Linked DNA regions of Homo sapiens. The protein of the gene in region 3 interacts with the protein of the main gene of each other region in a biochemical or structural test. Each region holds a gene or a part of one and is shown on either strand. Other genes may lie near its edges. The genes, in order: DLG1, FRMPD2, ATRNL1, FRMPD3, ERBIN, DLG5 and SNTG1.

Evidence for each region.
Region 1: the proteins of ATRNL1 (region 3) and DLG1 interact in a test that uses a peptide from one of them, tested with the Homo sapiens proteins (one large-scale study listed by IntAct).
Region 2: the proteins of ATRNL1 (region 3) and FRMPD2 interact in a test that uses a peptide from one of them, tested with the Homo sapiens proteins (one large-scale study listed by IntAct).
Region 4: the proteins of ATRNL1 (region 3) and FRMPD3 interact in a test that uses a peptide from one of them, tested with the Homo sapiens proteins (one large-scale study listed by IntAct).
Region 5: the proteins of ATRNL1 (region 3) and ERBIN interact in a test that uses a peptide from one of them, tested with the Homo sapiens proteins (one large-scale study listed by IntAct).
Region 6: the proteins of ATRNL1 (region 3) and DLG5 interact in a test that uses a peptide from one of them, tested with the Homo sapiens proteins (one large-scale study listed by IntAct).
Region 7: the proteins of ATRNL1 (region 3) and SNTG1 interact in a test that uses a peptide from one of them, tested with the Homo sapiens proteins (one large-scale study listed by IntAct).

The regions. Positions count from the first base shown.
Region 1 is NC_000003.12:197,064,613-197,068,112, forward strand, and holds part of DLG1 (disks large homolog 1), read right to left. Parts: intron 2,143-3,500; coding exon 2,092-2,142; intron 1,198-2,091; coding exon 1,096-1,197; intron 853-1,095; coding exon of another isoform or gene 839-852; exon of another isoform or gene 837-838; coding exon 664-836; intron 1-663. UniProt on the Homo sapiens protein: Essential multidomain scaffolding protein required for normal development. Recruits channels, receptors and signaling molecules to discrete plasma membrane domains in polarized cells.
Region 2 is NC_000010.11:48,236,697-48,240,196, forward strand, and holds part of FRMPD2 (FERM and PDZ domain-containing protein 2), read right to left. Parts: intron 2,997-3,500; coding exon 2,909-2,996; intron 1,428-2,908; coding exon 1,295-1,427; intron 1-1,294.
Region 3 is NC_000010.11:115,096,365-115,099,864, reverse strand, and holds part of ATRNL1 (attractin-like protein 1 isoform 1 precursor), read right to left. Parts: intron 3,221-3,500; exon of another isoform or gene 3,026-3,220; intron 1-3,025. UniProt on the Homo sapiens protein: May play a role in melanocortin signaling pathways that regulate energy homeostasis.
Region 4 is NC_000023.11:107,561,152-107,564,651, forward strand, and holds part of FRMPD3 (FERM and PDZ domain-containing protein 3), read left to right. Parts: intron 1-1,959; coding exon 1,960-2,049; intron 2,050-3,500.
Region 5 is NC_000005.10:66,024,075-66,027,574, reverse strand, and holds part of ERBIN (erbin), read right to left. Parts: intron 3,270-3,500; coding exon 3,125-3,269; intron 2,096-3,124; coding exon 2,023-2,095; intron 1,728-2,022; coding exon 1,598-1,727; intron 1,274-1,597; coding exon 1,158-1,273; intron 1-1,157. UniProt on the Homo sapiens protein: Acts as an adapter for the receptor ERBB2, in epithelia. By binding the unphosphorylated 'Tyr-1248' of receptor ERBB2, it may contribute to stabilize this unphosphorylated state.
Region 6 is NC_000010.11:77,808,256-77,811,755, forward strand, and holds part of DLG5 (disks large homolog 5), read right to left. Parts: intron 3,366-3,500; coding exon of another isoform or gene 3,329-3,365; exon of another isoform or gene 3,214-3,328; intron 2,980-3,213; coding exon 2,839-2,979; intron 1,476-2,838; coding exon 1,292-1,475; intron 1-1,291. UniProt on the Homo sapiens protein: Acts as a regulator of the Hippo signaling pathway.
Region 7 is NC_000008.11:49,914,407-49,917,906, reverse strand, and holds part of SNTG1 (gamma-1-syntrophin), read right to left. Parts: intron 2,934-3,500; exon of another isoform or gene 2,885-2,933; intron 1-2,884. UniProt on the Homo sapiens protein: Adapter protein that binds to and probably organizes the subcellular localization of a variety of proteins. May link various receptors to the actin cytoskeleton and the dystrophin glycoprotein complex.

The DNA.
Region 1 (3,500 bases), on a different chromosome or scaffold from region 3:
GGGTTTCTGGTCTCTGTTCCCTGTTTTTATGAGTTCTTTATATATTGGGAATATTAGCCCTTTTCTTGCAAATTTTTTCTGTCAGTTGTCTTTTGACATTGTTAATGGTGTTTTCCAATAGTTTTTGGAAAAAGTCTTTGGCCATAAAAAAAGTTTTTTAAAAATTTTAAGTGGTTAGATTTATTGATCTTTCTTTTTTTTTCTTTTTTTAAGAGCCAGGGTCTTGTTCTGTTGCCCAGGCTGGAGTTCAGTGGCATGCTCATAGCTCACTGCAGCCTCAAACTCCCAGGCTTCAGTGATTCTCTCAACTCAGCCTTCTCAGTAGCTAGGACTGTAAGGGTGCACTGCCACACCCGGCCCTTATCTCCTTTTAATATATGCTGGAGAGCTAGGCCTAAACAAAAGGTCTATCTCTAGCAAATGACCTGAAAATAACTTCTCTTACATTCATGTTATCATTTCTATTTTCACTTTCTTTGTTTACCTTATTTACCTGTTTTATCTTGTATGCACTTTCCTAAGCCATGGAAAATTAATTATTTAGGTAAGCAAATTCATCACATTAACAAAACTAATTAGTGCTGTATCTATCCTACCAGTCTTGCATACTGTCAAAGGCATATCTGATTAGAAGCTATATTCTGGGATTAGTCTGATGCTTACCTTTTCTGCTACTTCTCGTACAGACTGAACACTTGTTCCATATAGATGATTGTTATACTGGCCAGCTTCAATGAATTTATGTTCCTGGATATCTTTTTCCATCTGCTCTCTTGAAGTCACAAAATGATAATCTCTTCCATCTACCTCATAATCTCGTTTTGGTCTAGTTGTATCTTTAACAGAAAAAAACTTGGGAAAGTGTTTAATATTAAAAAAAAAACCACAATAAATCCATTTTCTACTTACATCGTTTTGTAAAGTTCAACAGAACAGATTAATTTAAATCTGAGAAAGGACAATAATATGGAGGATGGAAGAGTAACTGATAAAATAAGTACAAACCATTAAAAAATGGTTATATCTATTTTTCCCACACACAGTGACAGGAAATGTTAAGAGTAACAATTAAATGTTTTTGTTTGGTTTACTTACGAGGAACACAGGATCCAAATTTGTCAGGAAATTCTGAGATCAAGTCATCATTTATCCTGTCTTTCATAGGTCCCAATATGATCACTGGTCGAGTATAATTAACTATAAAGATAAACTGCATGTTAAAAGGAATAAACATTCAACAAATATCAATGTATTTTATTTCACCAGCGAACAAAAATATCCTTAACTGTTATGACTAATTTTTTTCTTCCCTCTCCATCTCACTCTACCATCAACCAAAGATGCGTAACTTGCTCTTTTATAATCTTGACTCAGATCTTAAACTTTACTTAGTCTTCTGCTAGAAGTCATATTGATAATTCAATCAAGTTAAATTTGGTGTTTTCGCAGATAATGTTTCTTTACATTGCAAATGACAGAATAAAGTCTAGTGTTTTACAGATGGCTTTGAAGTAGAAATTGTAAGGAAGCAGAGCAAAGAAGGGCAGAACAGAAACTGGATGTAGGAAGTGATATAATCCCAGTAGTAGCATTCTAGAAAGATGATCTAACAGAAGTGTAAACTCTGGGTGGTCTGGGATCATGCTGGAATAATGGAGATTGGTAGTGAGACTGAGAACTAACATTGTGATAGAAGGGATGAAAAGAAGGTCATAAATAAGAAAGAAGTGGGATAAACAGTGCCTGGAACCTAACTGGATGAGGAGGAGGAGGAGGAACAGAGAAGGCTCAAAGATACTTCCAAGATTTTCAAAAAAGGGTTATTTGGAAGATAGTGATGCTAACAAGAACACTGGAACAAAGTTGCTTGGGAAATAAAACACAAATATAAAAGTCAGTATGAAATGACTAGATTCTAATATTCTGTGGAGTAAACTATGTTTCATAAAACACATGTAGTAAATTTCTACATGTATATGTAGTAAAAAAAAATTTTAATACAACATTTTTTGGGGTATGAGAATTTTTTTCCCCCAAATTAAAAAGTATATTCTTCTAGAAGGTTATAAAACATCAATAGGCTTCACAAACCTTCTTGTTGATTCACTGGTTCATAAGATAAGACGTATTCTTCTTGACCACCTATTAGAAAGTGAAGGCACAGATGAAAAATGTGTAAAGATAATTGATGCTAATCTAATTCTTCATAAACAACATATACATTACTAGAACTTTCCTGAGAAAATGGCAAAGATATGGAAAGAGGTACTTTATGGCAAGATTTAGTTAAAAAAAAGTGTCAAATTATAAAGTCTTAAAAGTGAGTTTGCTAAATGTAAAACAAAATACAAATGGGCTATATAATCAATATTATATTTTATAGATAATCAAATCTAAAAATCTTCATTTGTGATGCTATGTGCTACTCCTTTATTTAGAATCTAAGAATTATTAAATCTGTTAAAGATTAATGCTTTAATGAGCAGATCTGTCTATCATCTATCTACGTATTAGGTAATTTGTTACTATTAAAAACATGCTACTTTTTTTGTTCCACCAACTACAATACTGAATACAGTATATTTTATTTTTAAAATAATTACATCTTAAAATTAAAAATTATAAATGCAAAGGTAAAACTACTGTTACTATTTCACTGATGAAAAATTCACTAACTCAACTTTGTAAAAAAATAATAAATTTAATGTGAGTCAAAAAGAGCTTTAGATAAAACTAAATCCTTCCAAGAAAATAAACAACAGTGATAGTAAAGGAGATAAATATATTTGCTTTGACCTTAAAAACACAAGAAGTTAAAGCTTCTAAAGGTTAAATTAAAGGTTCGGAGCTTAGGAAATACTCTAAATAAAAGAGTCTACAAATTATATCTGAATATCTGAATCCAGTGAAAAGAAATAAATAGTTAAAAACTCTGAGAGTTTTTTTTTTTTTTTTTTTTTTTGAGACGGAGTTTCGCTCTTGTTGCCTAGTCTGGAGTGCAATGGCATGATCTCAGCTCACTGCAGCCTCCAACTCCCGGGTTCAAGCGGTTCTCCTGCCTCAGCCTCCCAAGTAGCTGGGATTACAGGCATGTGCCATCATGCCCAGCTAATTTTGTATTTTTAGTAAAGATAGGGTTTCTCCACGTTGGTCAGGCTGGTCTCGAACTCCTGACCTCAGGTGATCTGCCCGCCTCGGCCTCCCAAAGTGCTGGGATTACAGGCGTGAGCCGCCGCGCCCGGCCAAAAACTCTAGGAGTTTTAAACTAACACACACACATCCCCCCTCACCCCCACGCCTAAAATTAGAAAAGACTGTGTTAACCCAAGTGGTTCAATGAAAGCAATCAATATTGGATAATGTATTTGAAGACTTTCTCTTTAATTATCAAGATCCTATAACAATTTTACCATGAATTTTGCAATTGGTTTATATTATATGTATGTAGCTGTAGGTCTTTTAAATCCATACATTGGCATAAACATTCTTTTCTGTTTTAG
Region 2 (3,500 bases), about 67 Mb from region 3:
TGGGCTGAGGCCCCAGCTGAATGGTACATCTTGGAGCAGAAGTCTTACAGGTGGGTATAGGGTATCAGCAACATTCTGGCTCTTAAGTTGGGTACAGGGGTGTTCGGGGTGAATTATAAGTTTCATAATTTACACAGAACTCCATCTTTTGTATGTATCAAAAGTATAAAATGTATAATATAAATATAAATGCAATAAAAATACTTGAAAAAACAAAAATACTTTTAGATTTAGATGAGCTGAAATGTTTTCTAGCTCTAGATGTTGAATCAATAGCTTAGTGGGCACCTCTTGTTCTCAGTGTGTTTGTATTACACTTGACCCAGAAAACACTGCAATACCCATCACTAGCTAGACCCAGCTATCCCCCTGTGGGGTGCATATTCTCAACCCATTTTACAGGTGAGGAAGTTGAGGCTCCTCACCTTTAAAAAAAAAAAAAAAAGCTTAAGAAGCTCACCTGAGTCATATAACCAGCAAGAGATAGGGTTGGGTAGGGCTTCTATAGTGCCCCCAAGGGTACCTAGCAGGACTCTTGTCCCAAGAGGCCAAAATTCCAGCCCAGAAGTGACTTGTGTCCTGCAAGAGTTCCCAATAGAAGTATCTCTAGTGAGTGATCAGGAAGAAAAGCCAAAGGAGGTGGACAAAGCCTCTCAGAAGCCCTCTTCACGCCCTCCACCAAGTTCATGGAGGCCAGAGAAGGGCCAAGGAGGACAGTGCGGGCCAGGCCAGCGTATGGGAACCATAGGCCAAACAGGAAGAGGGACATCCTGAGGCTATTTGGAGCTCAGCTCAGTCAAGGGACCTTAACTAACTTTGACAGACAGACAGGCACATTCCGCCTAACCCTATTACCCTCTTAGGGTTAGCCAGCTGGAAGGATAACTCTCTCCTCCCTATAGAAGCCCTCCCTGCGGCCCTGGATCTATGCTCCCACCTTTCACCTGTGCAGAAGGCCCCTTCCAAACACATTCTGCCTTGTCAGTTCTCGAATCATGTAGCACGCTCTGCCACCACCCTGCGCACCGGTGGCTTCCTCTAGGGTGGGACCCAGCATCTTTAACCCTACATCTTATACAGCGTCCCCCATAGAGCCTTCCCCAGTGAGGCTACTCAGTGAATGCCTATGCCCTAAGTTGCAAATTTCAGGTTTATGTTAGTCCAATCCTATAAACCTCAGCCCAGGGAAGTTGTCCCCTAGAAGACCCTGCCCATTTTCAGCCACCGTGCCAGCCACCCACAGCTCCCTGCTCAAGCCTCCTTGAGGAGTGTCCTTCAGCCTTATTTTGCTTACCTTGCTCCTTCTTTGCAGAAAACCCCTCTGAGAAGGAGTTGTTGGCCATGAGCTGTCTGCTGCCGAGTGCACAGATCCAGAGCTGAGCCTCCGGCCCGCCTGCTGGTCCTGGGGATCTGCTCCTGGAAGAGCGCTGGCCAGGGGTTGAGAAGGGGTGAAGCACTTAGCAATGGCAAGGGCTTCCATGGCATGAAAGACCACCCGCACAGGGGCTCAGTTGGGCAGGGTGCACCCACTGATGCATGTCACCTTCTCCCCCACCTATGGGGGAGTTATATCCATTTTTCAAGTGGGGGAAGCTGAGGCCTGGAGAAGCCAGGCTGCACAGCCACTGGGGTGGGGTGGGGTTGGAGGTACAAGGCACAGTCGACTTCTCCACCCCATGGCTTTACCTCTCTGTTTGTGGTGCCAGGACCCCAGGTCTAGAGCAACCACCCAGCAGGTCATGGGACTGCAGCAGTTCTGGCTTCTTTAGAATTTGATATGTTGTTCAAAATATTTTGACAATAAAATATATTGTTTAAGGAATCAGGGGGTAAAAATTGTTTTCATTGGGAAAATAAAGTTTTAAATGGCAGGAAAAAGTATTGCAAGATAAACTCTACGATATCCAATCAGGGCGTCAGCTGTGGATTTGACATCAACTATGACAAGACACTGTTACAGCCCTCAACAGGTCACCATGTGAATAAATAAATCACCCAAACTTCAAAATAAACACCGTTCCAGGTCCAGGAAGATATGAGCCCATCTAGGTTTTGATCTGATTCAAGCATCCTAAGTTAGACAATTGCAAAAATGTCCACAGTTCTTCTCCCTGATCTGCACCCTTTGCAATCCGACTTTGCAGCCTCCTGCCATCAAGAGATGGAGTCTATTTCTTACTCCTTGAAATGGGGCTGGCCTTTAGGCCTGATATGGCCAACAGAATGAAGTGGAAATGATGGAAGACCAGTTCTGAAGGCTTTATGCACCTTGCCGTCCTCTCTCCTCTCTCTCCTCTTTCTCTCTGTCTCTCTGTCTCTCTCTCTCTCTCTCAGTTCCTCTCTGTCAGTTCTGCCATTGTCACGAGAACAATCCTAGGCTGACCTGCTGGTGGAGGAGAGCCAGAGCTTCCCAGACAATGGCCATTCACCCCGCAGGAGAAGCTGGATAGCCGAGCCGAAGACAGTCAAAAAGGCAGGAAGGCTTTCAGCAGAGTCTAGAAGACCTCCCAGCTGAGCACAGCCTAAATGACCAACTCACAGAATCATGAGCTAAATTCATAATTGTTGCTTTTAGCCACTGTGTTTTGTGGTTGCTTGTTATGCAGCATGGTATGGCAATGGATAATGGCAACAATATTGAGGCATGTTGTTGCTCCGCCACTCGGCCTGAGTATGGTTCCCAGAGGAAACAGGATGCCCTGACAGCACAGCTGCCACCAGGCCCCTCATTATCTTGGCTTCGGATCTGCTTAAATGTGGCTTCTTCATCTGTTAATGGAATAGCATTGGCATTTTCTGGAGGAGCAAGAGGCTTCTTACTAATAATCAGTAAAGAAATAAGGTACCATAGCCCCCACACCTATGTCTCACATCAAGTTCACAGCACCCTTTAGGCCTTGCTGCTTACCGGTTAACAAGGAGGCTGCAGTGACTGTGTGTCAAGGTGCTCCAATGGGGCTCTGGTGAGCTCTGGGTCTCCGTGCTTCTTTCTGAAACTAATCAAGCAGCATGGTAGAGGGTATGGGCAGAAGCCAAGATCACGGCTTTCTTAAATCAGGCATCTCAGAGCATGAATGGCATCATGACTTACTAGCTGTGTGACCTTGGTGAAATTCCTTAGCCTCTCTGAATCTGTTTCCTCATGTAGAAAACAGAAATGACAGTTACAGAGGGTTGGAGGGAGGGTTACAAGGGAAGATAAAGCCTAATGGCAAAGTGCACTTTGTTTTAGAGACAACAAACAATAACATTAATTTTTTTAAAAAAAGCTCAGATTTAGTTGAAAAGTAGAGAACAGTAGATTTGAAGATTATTCCAAAAACCACTCTTTTAACACACCCAGAACAATAACTGAAAAAAAAATCAAGTTTTTCTTTTCTTGTTGTTTGTTTCAATTTGGATTTTCTCAACTTGGACAGTTAGAACTCATTTTTAAAGTTTTCATTTGATATAAATAACTGTGTTGTGTCCCCAAATAAGACTTTCCTGGGAACACAGGT
Region 3 (3,500 bases):
GACTGGTAGAAAATATATGCAAATGATATACCTCATAAGAAGCTAGTAATCCAGAAAATGTAAAGAACTCACAAAAATCAGTAAGAAAATTTTTTTAACATGCAAAAGGTTTGAATAAATGCCTATTACAGAAGATATACGGATGGCAAGTAAGCACATGAGAAGATACTCAATATCATTAGTAATTCGGGAAATGCAAACTAAAACCCAATAATATACCATTCACTTATTAGAATCACAAAAATTTAAAAGACTAACCATACCAAGTATTGGTATGGATGTGAAATTAACTAGATAGAACACTGACTCACTGCTGGTGGGAACATAAATGATACAACTACTTTGGAAAACAGTTTGTCGGTTTCTTTAACAGTTACACATATATCTACCCATATGATCCAGCCATTCTCAGGTTATTTCCCCAAGAGAAAGGAAAGCATATGACCATACAAAGATAAAAAGGCTTCCACATGAAACTTCGTAGCAGCTTTATAAGGAACAGCCAAAAATTTGAAACAATCCAAATGTCCATCAGCAGTTGAATGGATAAACAAATTATGGTGTATCCAGACACTGGAACACTATTCGGCAGTAGAATAAACTACTAACACACCATGAATGAATCTCAAAATAAACACGCTGTGTGAAAGAAGCCAGACAAAAAAGAAGTATATAATGTATGATTCTATTTACAAAAAGTTCTAGAAAATACCAACAAATCTATAGTGAGAGAAAGCAGATCAATAGTTGCCCTGGGACAGGAATTGGCAACTAGAAAAGGGAGGGTTTACAAAGGAAACACATGGAAACTTTCTAGCGTGATTGGTATTTTTATGATTTTGATTGTGGTGACAGTTTCAGATGCAAATACATATGACAAAACTTATCAAATTGTATAATTTAAATAAATTGTACATTTTAAATTGTGCTGTTTGACAATTATACCTCAATCTCTTAAAAATTTTGTTTAAATAACTATCAAAATTATAATTAAACACCTCATTTTTGACAATACTAAGAAGGAAAAATAGTGCTATTAGGGCAGTATATAAGGGGTAACCTAGTGTGAAGAGTCAGACAAGCCTCCTTTAGAAACTAGTATTTAAGTGGCCAGGCGCAGTGGCTCACGCCTGTAATCCCAGCACTTTAGGAGGCCGAGGCGGGTGGATCACGAGGTCAGGAGATCGAGACCATCCTGGCTAACACGGTGATACCCCGTCTCTACTAAACAAAAAATTAGCCGGGCGTAGTGGCGGGCGCCTGTAGTCCCAGCTACTCGGGAGGCTGAAGCAGGAGAATGGCGTGAACCCAGGAAGCGGAGCTTGCAGTGAGCCGAGATTGCGCCACTGCACTCCAGCCTGGGTGACAGAGCCAGACTCGGTCTCAAAAAAAAAAAAAAAAAAAAAAAAAAGAAACTAGTATTTAAGCTAAGATTAGAAGGATGATCAGTAATCACCCAAGCAAAGACCAGAGAGGAAAGAGTTCACAGTTACGTGTATAAAATGCACTAAGGCCAAAAGGAATGTGACACTTTCAAGGAACTTCAAAAGGCCAGTCAGGGCAGAGGAAAGGAGGCCTGAGTCTAATCAGCTAAAGGGGCCAAATCATGCAGACACGTGTTCTTGAAAACCATGCTACTATGCTTCTACAAGTAACTTACCTTATCAATTTAGAATCTAAGAAACACTCAATTTAAATTATTTTAAATTCCTACTGTGTGATTATACACTTTAATAATGTAAAAATAATCCATGGATATAAATTATCCATTAAAATAAAACTTTGAAATAAAGAAGTCTTAGGGACAGGGAACATTCAGTTTAAGTTTATAATTACTGTCAGTTTCCTTACAAGTAAAAAGGATTCCAAATATATATGTATTTACATATGCATATATATATATTTGTTTTTTGTTGTTGTTGTTTATTTTTGTTTTGTTTTGAGACGGAGTCTCGCTCTGTTGCCCAGGCTGGAGTGCAGTTGCGCGACCTATGCTCACTGCAACCTCCGCCTCCTGGGTTCAAGCGATTCTCCTGCCTCAGCCTCCTGAGTAACTGGGACTACAGGTGCGTGCCATCACACCCAGCTAATTTTTGTATTTTTAGTAGAGACGGGGTTTCACTGTGTTAGCTAGGATGGTCTCGATCTCCTGACCTCATGATCCGCCCGCCTCGGTCTCCCAAAGAGTTGGGATTACAGGCGTGAGACACCAAGCCAGGCAATATGCATATATTTTTAACAGCTTAGGGGAAGAGTTTACACACTTTATTCTGCCCGTTTTTGTCTATAATAACAACCTAATTCCTGACATTATATCATTACATCTTCATTTTGCTGTCACTACAAATAGAATGCTTCATATATGTATATATAAATTTTTAAGAAGAGTCTCGCTCTGATACCCAAGCTGGAGCGCAGTGGCGTGATTACAGCTCACTGCAGCCTCAACCTCCTGAGCTCAAGGAATTCTTCCGCCTCACTCTCTCTTGTAGCTGTGACCACAGGTGTGTGCCACCATGCCCAGCTACTTTTAAAATATTTTTTGTAGAGATGAGGTCTCACTATCTTGCCCAGACTGGTCTCAAACTTCTGGGCTCAAGGGATCCTTCCACCTCGGCCTCCCAAAGTGCTGGGATTACAGGCCTGAGCCACGGCACCCAGCATACTTCCATTTTAAATGCGTGAAATGAAGTATCCAAATTTGACTAACCTAAGAGGGGTAAAAATATACCCCTTTATATTTGACTAATATAAAGAGCAATACTCTTTATATTTATATAAATTTATATAAATCTCTACTCTACAAAATTAATTCTCAAGGGCTCCCTTCTAAAAGAGAACGTCATTCAAATAGATTATAGCAGAATATTTTCTTGCTTAACATTACACTGAACTATTCAAATAAATACAACTTGAATTAGAGTCTGTATCTTTGATTATTATATTTCAAATATATTTTCCTATTCTCAATCCCAAGTCCTTTAGTCTAGCTTTGGGTGAAAAATCAATGTTCCTTTTGTTTTACCTGTGTAAGGAAGGAATGGCTTGTTATTCTGAGTGCTTTATTCTTTTCAAATGGAAACAGAAGACTGGAATCAATGCTAAGAGAACTGAAGTACCACTTTTGATACTATATTTGCTTCTGCATTTCTTCCCCCAACTATCAATCTTCTATCCTCAAGAAACATTTGAAGAACATTTTTATTCCCTGGCGAAATCCCTATAGTAGAAAAAAAGCTAAGTTACCATGGAGCCAACCAATTAATTTTGACACCTGCTTACCAAGATTGATCAATCATTTTTAATGTCTGTTTGTAAGGTTGCTATCCTTCAGTTTAGAAAAAGATTTTCAAGATAGTTAGTGAAGTGAGATTTTCTAGTTAAAGCCTTTCCCACTGTGTTATTACTTCAAATGCCAGGTAAAACAAGCTACTATCTTCAAATAAACCTTTCATAGGTTTATTTGCATGTACTTTACCAAGAAGAATTCTTTTCTACTA
Region 4 (3,500 bases), on a different chromosome or scaffold from region 3:
CTGAGCATGTATCATGTGGAAAGCACTGGACCCTAGGGAGGCACATGTTTTCCATGGAAATGACTAGGCTGGTGTGGTGGCTCATGCCTGTAATCCCAGCGCTTTGGGAGGCCAAAGCAGGAAGATCACTTGAGCCCAGGAGTTTGAGACCAGTCTGGGCAACATAGTGAGACAGCGTCTTTACTTTTAAAAAAATAATTTAAAAAAAATGTAAAAAAAGGAAATGTACCTCTGTACCTCTAATTCATCAGTCCTAGGGTGTGGAATTCTGGGAGACAAAACCCCAGCCCAGGGGAAAGTGGGAGAGTTGGGGGCACAAGACCTGACCTGGAGAATGGGTCACTGGGTGGAATGGTGAGGGATCAGGTTACTGCCTCCACTTTCTAGTGCTCTGAGGGACTCCCACTGTCTGCTTTCCCAAGCCCCGCAGCAGCTTCTTAGCTTTGTAAGATTCAATCTGCCTGTGCTTCCTGCCCTAGAAGCAGGAGAGTGGTGAGACGCACTAGAATCAGCATGCAGATGTACATATGGGACGCAATCGCCCCATACATTCCTCCCATTCCAGATTTCTTGCATTACCAACTAGCTTCTCTTTTAAGATGCAAATTTCCCCGGAGAGTTAAGCCATTCCCACCTTGCTGTGAATATTTAATCAGATTGTTTTCTTCTCAACTGAGAGCATCAGTGCTCACCACCATCTCCTCAGGTAACATTTTTTTCGAGGCACCCCAGTGCTTGGGTTGGAAATATGAAGATGAAGAGGGCCTGGTCTTGGCCCCTGAGTCAGGCACAGTCTAATGGGGAAACACATTAGTCAGTCCCAACACAGTGCATTAGGCACAGGTGCTCTGGAAGCACAGAGGAAGAACACTAAGCCCAGCCTGAGGGAGGTGGAAAAGGCCAGAGCTGGGTCTTGAAAGACAGATAAGAGTTTGTCTAGATTAATCCGTGGGCATGGGTCATGGGAGGAAGTGTTTCCCAGGCAGAGAGATCCATCTGTACAAAGGCCCAGAGATATGAGAAACCATGGTGCAAGGACAGAAATGCAAATCATTCAGCCTAAGCAAGTACAGAAAATGCAAGCTGTGTGCAAGGGGTGAAGATAGGGGCAAGAGAAGAGGCCAGAGAGGTTGGCAGGAGCCAGTTCATGGAGGGCCTTGTGTGCCAAGGAAAGAGGTTGTACTTCATCCTCTAGGCAGCTGGGAGCCATTGAAGGGTTTAAAGCAGGGAGCTGATGTGATTAAACTTATGTTTTAGGATGCTCCCTCTAACAGTGTGGAGGCACTTGAGGGAAAGAGGGAAACAAGTGTCAGTCCTGAAGGTAACCTGGCTGTCACCCTGACACAGGTGGGAATGTCAAGGCAATGACTGGCTAGAGAAGAGGGATGGATAGATTGGAAAAGGAGCTAGGGGGTAAGTATCCAGATGATCTGGTAACTGCTGGCTCTCACATGAGGCGATTAAGGAGGAGTCCAGTGTGACTCACAGGTTTCTGGCTTGATTGCCCAGGGGATGCTGATATAGACCAGGAATGCCTGAAGTGCAGGCTTGGGACTTAGGAATGCTTAGTATGAACGGTATTGAGTGGGACCCCCAGCTGGGGAATGACCAGCATGTACATGACTCTAGGGGTCTGAAACATCTCAGGAGAGAGGTATGGATTAGGTGGGGCGTCAGTTAGTTGGAATTAAACCAAAAACAAAATGAGTAAGCTGGATACTTTAGGAATGAAGATCAGGAGGTAGGACAAGATTTTAGAAAGGGAGATGAGATACTAGAGGGAAGAGCTGTCCAAACTAGAACCTTGCTGCTGTTTTAAGAAGGGCATCTTCACATCTCCACAGTGTCACTTGCTGACTGGTGCCTGTCCTAGGATGTTGAGACTCCTCGTTGAGAACATGGGTTTGCTTTTCCTGTGCCCCTCAGGCTTCTCATATTTCTGGATGGGTTTTTCCACAGGGCTCTGCAATTCAGGCAAAGCTCCAGTATCTACGAATTCTGAATGAACTTCCTACCTTCACGGGCGTTTTGTTCAACACTGTAGGCCTGGTCAGTGGCGCAGGATTGGGGGATGTGGGGAGGGAGCCCCTTGTTGGCTCTTGTCCTTGGGTGTGGGGGCAGGAGGGGCAAATATTTCTAAAGGCCTTCGTTCCTCTTCCTCCTCCTTCTACCTCTTACCTCCCTGGCCCTGCCTCTGCCAAAATGATAAAGTGGGAGGAGATATTTGTTTTGAGTATCCCTCCATGACCTTTTTTTGTTCCTCTTCCTCGATTTGGGGGCGCAGCATACTTTTTCCATAAAGGGCCAGATAGTAAATATTTTAGGTTTTGCAGGCGGGCCATACTGGCAACTGTGGCAACTACTCAGCCCTGCTGTCAGATTATGAAAGCAGCCACAGACAATGCATAAACAAATGGGTGTGGCTGTTTACCAATAATTATTTATGGATACGAAAATTTGAATTTCATGTACTTTTCACATGTCACAAAACATGCCTCTTCTGATTTTTTTTCCCTACCATTAAAAAATCTAAAAACCATTCTTAGCTCCTGGGCCATAAAAAATAGGTGGTGGGTGGTATTTGGCCCATGGGCCATGGTTAGGCAACCCCTGCTCTATTTCATTTTTGTTCCACATACTCCCACAGTCCCCTACCCTAGGTTTCCTGAGTCCTTCTACTTCTCCCCCTGCTTGCTCAGCACCTTTGCTGCAGGAACAAGGCTCTGGGGCAGGGCACAGCTGGTCCCACCCTAAGACTGTGCCCCAGGCTAGTTTACCCTGGTGAAAGGAAATTCAAATCACCTTGCTAATTGGATCCAGGTGCTTGTCTTGCTCCCAGGAGCACATTGTCAGCTAGTGCGGCACATCGGTGGAAAGCCACTTATCAAAGTGCCTATAGACAGGCACAAGAGGTTCCTCAGGGTGATGCTAATACCAGGGAATGGGCCTCCAGACGACCCAAGCTTGATTGCTCCAAGGAATCTGTCAAGACCTCTTAAGGGAATCCAGTCCTTCAGGCCGAGAGGTAGCCATTTACATACTGGGATTTGCAGAACACTGAAAGCCCACTGTCCCCTCCCACCTCCTTCATACACTGTCAAATCTTTCTTCCACCCACCTACCACTGCTAAAATTTCTATTGGCCATACCTGCTGGAGTGCCCATTAAAAGGCAAATCTCTGCTTAACGAGGGAGGCTGCCATGAAGTACCCAATCAACCCTCAACACCTTAGGCAGAGTTACTGTGCCAGTTTAGTTTTTGGCCTGGGTGAGAAGTGCAAGTTTGAGTGGCTGTTGGTGGGGGGAGGGTAAAGACCAGACACAGGATGCCGCCTTCTCAGGCAGAGCACTGGGTGGGGGCCTCAAATGGCCTGCAGCAACAAATGGAAAGCCCCTGGGGCTTGGAAGGGGAGGGTGCTCCAAAGGCCCCCAAACAAACCTCACCTACTTCACGGTTTTGCTTGAGCTAGCCCTTCTGCCTGTGCACTTTACTCAACCTG
Region 5 (3,500 bases), on a different chromosome or scaffold from region 3:
GGAATAACAATGGGAAAGTTGGTACACGTTCAGTACTGACACAATTTTTTTCCAAATATTTCTGATCTGAAGTTGTTTGAATCCACACTTGCAGAACCCACAAATACAAGGGTCAACTATAAATACTCATTAGAATACTAAATGAAAATATCTTATTTAAGAGAGAATTATCTACTTCAGCCTTGCTATCTTATACCTAACTAGTCTTCCGTGCCTTTCTTTCAGCAACCCACTGTGGGCCGTAGGAATTAAAGGCTGAAACGTGACTTAAGAAAGCAGTGGTTCTTTTAAATAAAACAGAAGTTAGAATATCATAATTAGTCAGAAAATTGAGTTTAAATTAAAGCTCTACCTTACAAGCTACGTGAGTCACCTTAAATCTGAGTCTTAAAACCCTCCTACATAAAATGGGAATACTATTATACTATTTCATAGAGCTGTTTTGAAGACTTCACAAGACACTATGAAAGCAAAAAGTGAAAACACTCTACAAATGCTGTTTAATCATCATTAGTATGTTTACCTCACGAAAAAGTATGGACATTCTGTTTTTAACTTAAACATTGTTCCAATTTACAACCCTAGTGATCAATTTACTCTGCACCTTGGCTTTGTTGAAACCAGATCTCTGCCTAGGAAAATATTAGCAACAGACTAGATACATTCCAAAATTGTTTTGTTAAATAGCAATATTCAGGTGAAGATGTGACTTCAGAAATAAAAGGTAACTGTAAGAAGAGAATAAAGACTATATAGCTAAGTCAACCCAAAATGAACAGTAACAACCACCGTATGATAAATTAACATCAGATAAAATAAGACCACTCTTTGTATTTAAAGAAAAAAATATATACAGTTAAGTCCTCATTTAAGTTATTGATAGGTTCTTGGAAACCAAAACTTTTAGCAAAACTGTGTATGGCAGGTTCTCAAATAATGTCATTTTCTTATAACACTGATGAACGAAAGAAGTGATTTCATTGTATGTTGTTTCACTGAAAGTCACACTTTCCAAGAGCCTATCAATAACACTGAGAACTTACTATGTATATTTAAAGAGCAACAAGCACTAGCTATTCTATTATATATCATATGAAACTTAATTTCATCTAACCAATGTCTCCTATAAACCAACTGATGAATATAGTATTACGAACCTATTATCACTTAAATTAATGACTTTTAATTTTTGCATATCACCCATTTCCTCTGGAAGTGTCTCAAGTTTATTGGAATGGAGAAACAGCACAGTTATATTTTTCCAGCTTCCAATCTGAAAGAGAAATATAAACTGAGTATCAAAAAATTTGGCCTACAGGTTGATCAACATATAAAAAACATCATTTTTGAAAGTTATGAAAAATACTTCACATTTATAGAAGAAATAATGACTAGACTTTCTTTTTAATTAATTTTTATGTACATAAGAAAGCATTTAAGAACCTCTTCTAAATTAACATAGCTAATTATTCAGAAAATAAATAACTTGAAAACTATTTTAGAAAGAAAATAAATGAAGCCACACTAAATAGCTATAATGAAGATAATCAGAAAAAAATGAAAAGACAAAAATCTAAACAAATCTAAAATACATTACCTCTGGGGGCAACTGCTGTAAGTAATTATGATCAGCAGCAAAAGTTCTTAAGTTAGTAAGCTGCCCAATAGATGAAGGCAAAGCTTCAACTTCATTGAAACTACAATCCAGTTCTTCTACTGATATTAACCTTTAATTTAAAAAAAGAAATATATATTATTTGTTAAAGATTTCCTATATATAATCCAAAATTTCAGAACATATAAACATTTGAACTTGACTTTGAAAACCTAGTGAAACCATTTCACAAAGCTAAACTTCACCAATAAGTAGGTTTGTCTATCATAAACACACTCAACCTGTATACTAATTACTTAAATGTTTACAAAATCTTTAGGTCATTTATGCAAATACCTGAAAATATGTATGGCATGCTGAACTGAAAGTAAAATCTTCGAGGGTGTATACATTCACAAAAAACTTACCCTCCTATAGAGTCTGGCAGATACATTAACTGGTTTTCATCTATTTTAAGCGTTGTTATATTCTTCAACGAACCTAATGAGGGAAGAAACAACATACAATTTTTCAGCTTAAAATAGAAGCAAGTCCACCAACAGTCAGTGTGAGACATACTACATCTGACAAGAATTAGAAACAACTTTCCTAACAAACGTATCTAAAAGAGATACCACTCCCAATCCCAATGTTCTATTCCCTCATCCTGTCCTTTCAATCTTCATCCACATCACTATTTAACATAGTGTACATTTGTTTATTAACTCCCACTAAAATATACTGATAGTAGGAACTTTTTTGTCTTCGTTGTTCACTGTTGTAGCTCTGCTTCTAAAAACAATGTCATGGCACAGAAAAGACAGACAATACAAACTTGTTAAATTAATAGACTAAAGAAATGGTAGTATGAAGGTAGTTCATAACAGGTATATAAAAAACTATTCCATATATACTAAATACTAAAACAGTAAAATATTTTTTAAGTTTAAAAAGTGTTGACTAAGAGTAGAATCGTAACAAACTTACAAAAATGTAGTTTTAGCTAAAACCACTACGTGATTTAACTGAGAAATATTTTTGGTTTTTAAATTAAAACATCAAAAAGATGTCAAGATTGAAGTTTTGGGTCCTTTCATCAAAATAATTCAATTCCATTGACATATCATTGAACAAGCAACTACACAGACTCAATCATAGATCTCTCATGATCTGTTCAACTGATCTGTTTTCTTGTCTGAGTGTCTGTAATGAAACAGGACTGAAAAAAGTTACCAAAATAAAAGCTATGACAATAAAAGCTAACAGTTAAGCCAAATTTGCATAAGTTAACTTATTTTAAAGAATTTAAATATATTAGAAATAAAAATGAGATTACCTTAGAGTAAATAAAAAACAGTAATGTCAACAAAGGAGCAAACTGTACAACTGATCACACCAGGAAAAATTCAAATAAAATCCGTTCCTGTGGTAACGAAGTATAACTACCTCATAACAAGTGAAATTTGAGATTATGTGGAAGTCTCGAATTTATTTTAATAAAAATTACATGAATTTGAAAGCAATACAAACCAATAGTCTCAGGAAGCTGCTGAAGTGAATTGCTTGATAATAGGAGGTCTTGAAGGTTTTCACATGTTGAAATTCCTTCTTCAACCATTTCAATATTATTTTTAGAAACATCCAAATATGTGAGCTGTTTCAAACTACCAATAAACTATAAGTAAAAAAAGAAAATCTAATGACTCTATTAACATTAGTAATTTGTAAAAAGTTTAGGGAATAAACTTGATACCAAGTTTTAATTCAAAATTAAATGCTAATACAAGAAAGAAGACTCCCAGGTAGTTTTTTAAATGCCATTAGAAATGTATTCAGTAATATAGCTAAGATGTTCTACTAATTGTAGCATAGCAGAAGTGACAAAGGACATATTCTTTGGGAATTC
Region 6 (3,500 bases), about 37 Mb from region 3:
GTTGCCTGTGCTTTTATTTATTTATTTTCTGAAACAGGGTCTCCCTCTGTCACACAGACTGAGTGCAGTGGTGCAATCACAGCTCACAGTAGCCTATACCTCTTAGGCTCAAGTGATCCTCCCACCTCAGCCTCCAGAATAGCTGGGACAACAGGCACACTCCACCACACCTGGCTAATTTTTTTGTTTTGTTTTCTGTAAAGACAGGGTCTCACTATGTTGCCCAGGCCGGTCTTGAACTCTTGGGCTCAACTAATTCTCCCACCTTGGCCTCCTAAAATTCACAGGTGTGAGCCACCAAACCCAGCCCAACTTGTGCCTTTATATTCTCACAAACCATCTCCCCCATGAGGCAGGAGACCACAGAGAAAGACCATCCTCTCTCATCAGAACAGAGTCCTGCAGCTACATCACCTGAGGGCGAGCACCCCCTGATGCCCAGGGCCTGAGCCAAGGCTCTGCCCTCAGGTTCCCTCAATGGCCTGCCTGGCTTCACAGGGACCTCCTCAGAAGGGCTTGGCAGGATTCTGGGTTTACAGGGATTAAAAATCAACCCTGGCCAGGCACAGTGGCTCACGCCTGTAATCCCTGTACTTTGGGAGGCCGAGGCGGGTGGATCACCTGAGGTCAGGAGTTTGAGACCAGCCTGGCCAACATGATGAAACCCCGTCTCTACAAAAAATACAAAAATAAATTAGCTGGGCGTGTTGGCGCATGCCTGTAATCTCAGCTACTCAGGAGGCTGAGGCAGGAGAATCGCTTGAACCTGGGAGGCGGAGGTTGTGGTGAGTTGAGATTGCACCACTGCACTCCAGCCTGGGCAACAAGGGCAAAACTCTGTCTCAAAAAAAAAAAAAAATCAATCCTGAGGCTGGACACGGTAGCTCATGCCTATAATCACAGCAGTTTGGAAGGCCGAGGCGGGCAGATCACTTGAGGTCAGGAGTTTGAGACCAGCCTGGGCAACATGGTGAAACTGGTCTCTACTGAAAATATAAAAATTAGCCGGGTATCGTGGCACATGCCTGTAGTCCCAGCTACTCGGAAGGCTGAGGCAGGAGAATCGCTTGAACCTGGGAAGTGAAGGTTGCAGTGAGCTGAGATTGTGCCAGTGCACTCCAGCCTGGGCGACAGAGCAAGACTCTGCCTCAACAACAACAACAAAAGTCAGCCCTGACTGGCTCACCAGATGAGAGGCTGTACTCCTCCGTCTTTGGTGCCACCTGAGATGGCAGCAAGCCCACTGTGCAGGTAGATGGAGGCCTGGCCTGCTCAGCAGCTCAGAACTCACCTCCAGGATGAGGTCCCCTGGCACGAGGCCGTCAGGACCCTTGGCAGGACTGTCATCCTCCACCTCGGCCACAAACACCCCATGCAGGTTCCCACCACACAAGTGCACCCCAAGCTCCAGCTGGGACTTTTTGATGAAGACAACGCGTGGCTCCAGGGTCTTCTTGTTGGCATCTCCCGCAATCCTTTCAGGAAAAAAACAAAGTTCCTCAACTGTGCACAAAGAGGAGGCACAAAAAGACAAAGCAGTGGCCAATGCCCTAACCGCTTTCTGCCTGCTTCTTGGGGTCTCAGAACCACAGGGAGCTGAGAGGTGGCCTCTAGTTCTACTGGCTCGGCGTTCGGGACAGGATGCTAAGGTGCACTGGAGATGAAGGCAAGACCCCAGGTCCAAAGCCAGTTAGCGGGGGCAGTCAAAACCGTAAATCAGTGCCCCTGCTCCCAGGCCCGGCTATCAATCTCATGCCTTAAAGATCAGGATGGCCTCCCTCCCATGTGGATCACACTCATTTTCCTAACTTAGTACTTCCTAAGGAAAGGTAAAGTTGGCCTCACTGTCCAGAGCACAGCAATGTATTCAGCAAATGTCTACGAAGAAGCTTCTATAGACCAGCAACTGCTAACTTGTGAAGAGGGGCCCCTTGCCATCAAGGCACTTACAATCAAGGAAGGGAAGCTGAAAGTAAGCTGCTGAACACATGGAGGGAGTGAGATGGGACAGCGATGGAAACAGATACAGGGGGCTTCAGGGGAGATGCCAGCCCGGGAGGAAAACCTTGCAGCAGGTAAGTTCCAATGTGACAGACTCTGGTATAGAGAATGCAGAGCTGGCCTCATTCTGTGAGATGCTGCCCAGGGCTTGGTGAAGGCCTCTCAGTGCTGGAGACACAGCTCCTCCAGGACGGCAGAGTGATCATGTCACACCATGGCCTGGATGGCCCTCCCTGCAGCCCCAGGCCAGGCTGGACGCTGTGCAGCTCCCATGGAGCTCCTTCCTCCTCCTGAACTCTGCTGCTCCCTCGGCCTGGACTTCTCTTTATGCCCACTCTTGGCTCTTGCCTGTCCTGAACATTTTAATCCAGCTGCCACCTCCCCTGCCACACTCCAGTGATCTTCCTGCCTGCTCTGCGGCGGCCGGCAGTGCCCTCCCAGCACCCTGACTCTGCTGCACGTGCCCGGCACTGGTCTGCCACCTCATTGGGGGAAGCACTGCTGTGGGTGGCCAGAGCCCAGGGCCTGGCCGGGTGATGACTGTGGGAATGTGTCCAAAGACAGACTCAGAAAGCGAGTGAACAAGAAAAGGAGAAGAGAAAGAGAAGATGCAGGGGAAAAAACAAGTCAATAGAAAACAGGAGAAAAAGAGAAAGGAAAAGAGAGAGTAGGGAAGGAAAAAAGGAATGCCGTGCTCCCGGCCCAACTCCTGAAGACCTGGTGTGCGGCCTGCAGCACATGAGGCCAGCTGCCCAGTGCCCACGCCACTTGGAGAATGTGCTCAGCCCCACCCAGCCGAAGCGGACACAGGGAAGGCTCACAGCAACGTCTGCTGACCTGGAGCTGCTCTGCTTGGCTGGGGGGGTGCTAGGCCCCTCGTCCTGCTCCATCAGTGGGTCGATGACAGATGGATGCTCCGGGGTGGTGGTGCCACTGCCCTGGAGAGTGGAGTGGGTACCGGCAGGGTCCAGGTGTGAGCTGGAGGCGGAGGACAGGAGGGATAAGGAGCAGTACGAAGCCACCCAGAGCCACCCCCACTCCTGTGGCAACTAGATCTGAGCTATAAATGGGGACCAGGTCACATAGCCCTGCACCCTGTGCCCTGAGCAGAGCAGACACATTAGAAGCCTGGACCCATGACATCCACCTGTCCTCTCCCCTCCACCTGTCCTCAGCTCAGGGGCCCTCTCCAAAGGCATCTGACCTCAGGAAGCTGTGAGCATCCTGTCTCTTTTCCTCTGCCTGTGCATCCCATCTCTCCTGCTGAGCTTGTGGCGCAGCACTGCAGGGCATGCCTCCCCTTCTTTTCTGCCCTTCAACCCACAGCTCAGGGGCAGATACAGACAGGTGTACAGCATCTGCTCCTGGACAGGGAGCCAAACACTTTGAGTGAGAATCCACCCCCGGGGCCACAACTCCTGGCTACCATGGGCCCCTGCTGGTCAGGGGGACCACAGCCATCTGTTTCCACACCCCATTTCAGGAGGAGACAGCCTCTC
Region 7 (3,500 bases), on a different chromosome or scaffold from region 3:
GTTTTGTTCTAACTGAGCAGAGCTGAGTCGAGGACTCTTGACGGGCTCACTTTCTGCAGTGTGATGCAGATCTCACTGGCTAGCCTCCCTCCTTACATGAACTGCCTGCACCCTGAGGGCATTTGAATTTACAATCTATGCAAAGAGATATAGGTTTGAATAAGAAAACAGAAAAGGGAAAGTCTAGAACAAAGCATTAACAAAAGAACTATGTGGTGATGAGGATAGTATGTTTGGAAGAGAATATAAAGCATGGGGGATTTATCTGGAGAAATGAGAGAGCGGTAGTTGATCAGAGCCATGTGCATAGACTAGTCTAACAGGCTAAGTCATAACACTCACCAGCTTCAACAAATCCCGGTCAATGTACTAGCCATTGTATACAATTTGCTCATTAACTGTTCCCAGCAACACACTGCAGTGGACATCAGACTTAGAGACTTCACATTCCTTGCCCAAGTTTTTGTCATTAATGCCATTTCTATAACAGGATTCGAACTTAAGTCTGATTCTAAATCCCATGTATGTTCCACCATGAGAGCACGGAAACATTTTCAAGAAGAATGGCATGACAGATGTGGAAGGAAAGTTTATGAGTTCAACTAAACATAGACATTGTTTATTTTCTCATGGACATAATAATGATTTACCAATAGGACCAAGGATATAGCTGAGCAGTTAAATTAAGATAAAGTGATTTACCCAAGTCCACACAACCAATTGATGACAAACCATGTTGAACCTCAGATTTTGTGTGTACTGGATGCATTTTTAACCATAAAATACTCTTTTCTCATCTATGATCTAAATTTCTTAATCTCACATACTTATTTCTCACCCCTTGAAAAGATTCAAATAAAATTTATTATTTTTAATATATATATTTTTTTGAGATAGAATCTCATTCAGGCTGGAGTGCAGTGATGTGATTATATCTCACTGCAGCCTCAAACTGCTGGGCTCAAGTGATCCTCCTACCTCAGCCTCCTGAGTAGCTGAGACTACAGGCACATTCACCACACCCAGATATTATTTTTTTATTTTTTATGTTTTTTTTTTCTATTGAAGAAACGAGGTCTCACTGTGGTGCCCAGGCTGGTCTTGAACTCCTGGCTTCAAGTGATCCTCTTGCCTCGGTATCCCAAAGTGTTGGGATTATAGGCATGAGCCACTGTACTTGGCCTTTTCATAGTTTTATATAAGTAACACATTATTGTTCAAATTTTGGCACCATTTCTAAAAGATTTCTATTTTCTATTAGCTTATTTAGTGAATTTACCAGGCAAGCACTTATTCTTTTAAAAAACTAAATCTTAGACCGAAATTGTGAGTAAATTTGTTAAACATAGAGCATATAATTACTTCACAATTTTTAATTTTAAAAATATCTTCAAGTATGTACATTACATATGATGAAGTGATAATAAGCAAGTATTCAAATGAATTGATTTAATGACACTCTTTTTGAAAAAAAATATAACATGATCACTTTATCTTTGCTGACAAATTGAAGACCAAATTCAGGAGACCCAAAATGATTTTCTGACTCTTTCAGTGTGTAGAATGTGCTGAAGAAACTTCACGGTGAAAATTTAAGGATAATTCAAAGATAAATTCTCTGGCCTCAAGACATTATTTTAATGACCTCTTACTCTCAGTTCTTTTTCATTTTATGTTTTTGACTGTTTCTGGGTTTTTGTGTGTGTGTGTGTGTATTTGACAAAAAAAAATCTGAATTATATTACTAAGTAAGTGATGATATAATTTTTTATCGCTGGTGCAATTATATAATTTAACCACAAAACAATGCTGGAAATAACTGTAACACCAAACATTGACTTATATTTCCTAAGAATACTGTCAGTATATTTTTAGTGATAGTCTAGAAATCTATACAGACCAAATGTTGATAAATTACATTGAAAAAATCATAGTGACGTTTAAAACCCGACTAAGAAAAGCAAATAAGCAATGAAATACTGCTTATTCGATTTTCTAAAGAGATGTCCTAAAGAGGCCTATGAATAAAATCTAGGCTTTCGACTAAATCAAAACAACATCTTAACAGCATTTCCAGGCTAGCCCCTTAGATCAGCCCGCATGTTGTCCACATTTCACTCCATGCTCACAAGCCAGCAGTCAAATCACAATGCTTTCTGTATGTTTTAGGATATGGAGTTTTGAAGTGTATTTCATCGTATGAGTTTCCTTATCAATATCACTAATGACAAACATTAATCCTCCTTTATAAACTAGAAAATTATGACACGACATGATAGATTCTTTGAAGGTCAAAATGAAAGTTGTTGAAATAGACTCAGGTCAACTAAGTTTGTCCAATTGATATAGAATGTGGTGTCAGTTCTGAGTAATAAAATATTTTTGAAACCAAGTCCACCTTCATTGAATATCACTTATATTTATACCATTAAGAGATGTAAAGGAAATGACTGCTGAAGTATCAGGGAAGTATTATATTCCCTATGCTGAGAGTTGTTAAGTATAAGGGATGTGCCTGTTATTTAGTAATTAGTGGGATTTTTTTTGACGAATGAATGAATGCTATTGGAAATTATTTATAATAACTCACAGATATAACACTTGTTTCCAAAACACTCTCAAAATCATTGAATTTCGACTTTCCAGTATCCCACAAAGTAGGCATCATTCACTTATCTCATGAGTGTTCAGGTATCAGCTGTATGTAAATTATTGTGTCTTCATTGAAAAGTAAAGAATCCCCAAATTTAAGGAAGAAAAATTCAGCTGCAGTGGATTGAGTGACTTGTAGAAGATCTTATGGCCAGCAGTTAAAAAATTCTGATCTTTTGACTGTCAAGTAGTACTTGTTTCCCTACAACATGATGTGTAACATGTTTCTTACCACAGGATGTTGTCTCTTCCAACACATGCTATGTGCTCACTCTGCTAAGCTAAATAGGAAGAAAACACCAAATAAGAGATCTCTCTCCATTTGAATTCTATTCTATAACACACTGTACAGATTTCTGGGAAGGTGAGATTACTATGGAAATAATTTCTAGCTTACAATATGCTTTTTTCTTTCCTAGTGGCTTTTGTGTTGCTTAACAGAACTAGGTGAGTAAGCAGGCTAGCTGCTTGGAATTTATAAATCTTTAAGTGGTCAAAAACAGCCAATTACTAAATATTAGCAATAGTCATTTTTTACTTTTATATTTTTTGATAAATGTTTGAACTTGATTGAAACCCAAGTAAATAACTCCAAAGGCAAACTGTGAGCATTAAAATCCAATACGATTTCATGGTATGAATAATTACATTAGAATATACAAGTAATATTTATATAGTCTATGCAAAAATTAATCAAGAAGTGTTTTTATAACATTTTGGAAGAAGGCAATTGAATGGATTCCAGGGCTCATTTTAAATTATCCTCTGGTCCTATATATACTTTACATTTTCTAGATTATGTAATCCCATCTCACCTTTCTCTTTTGAGTCTCAAATGTAAGCAACAG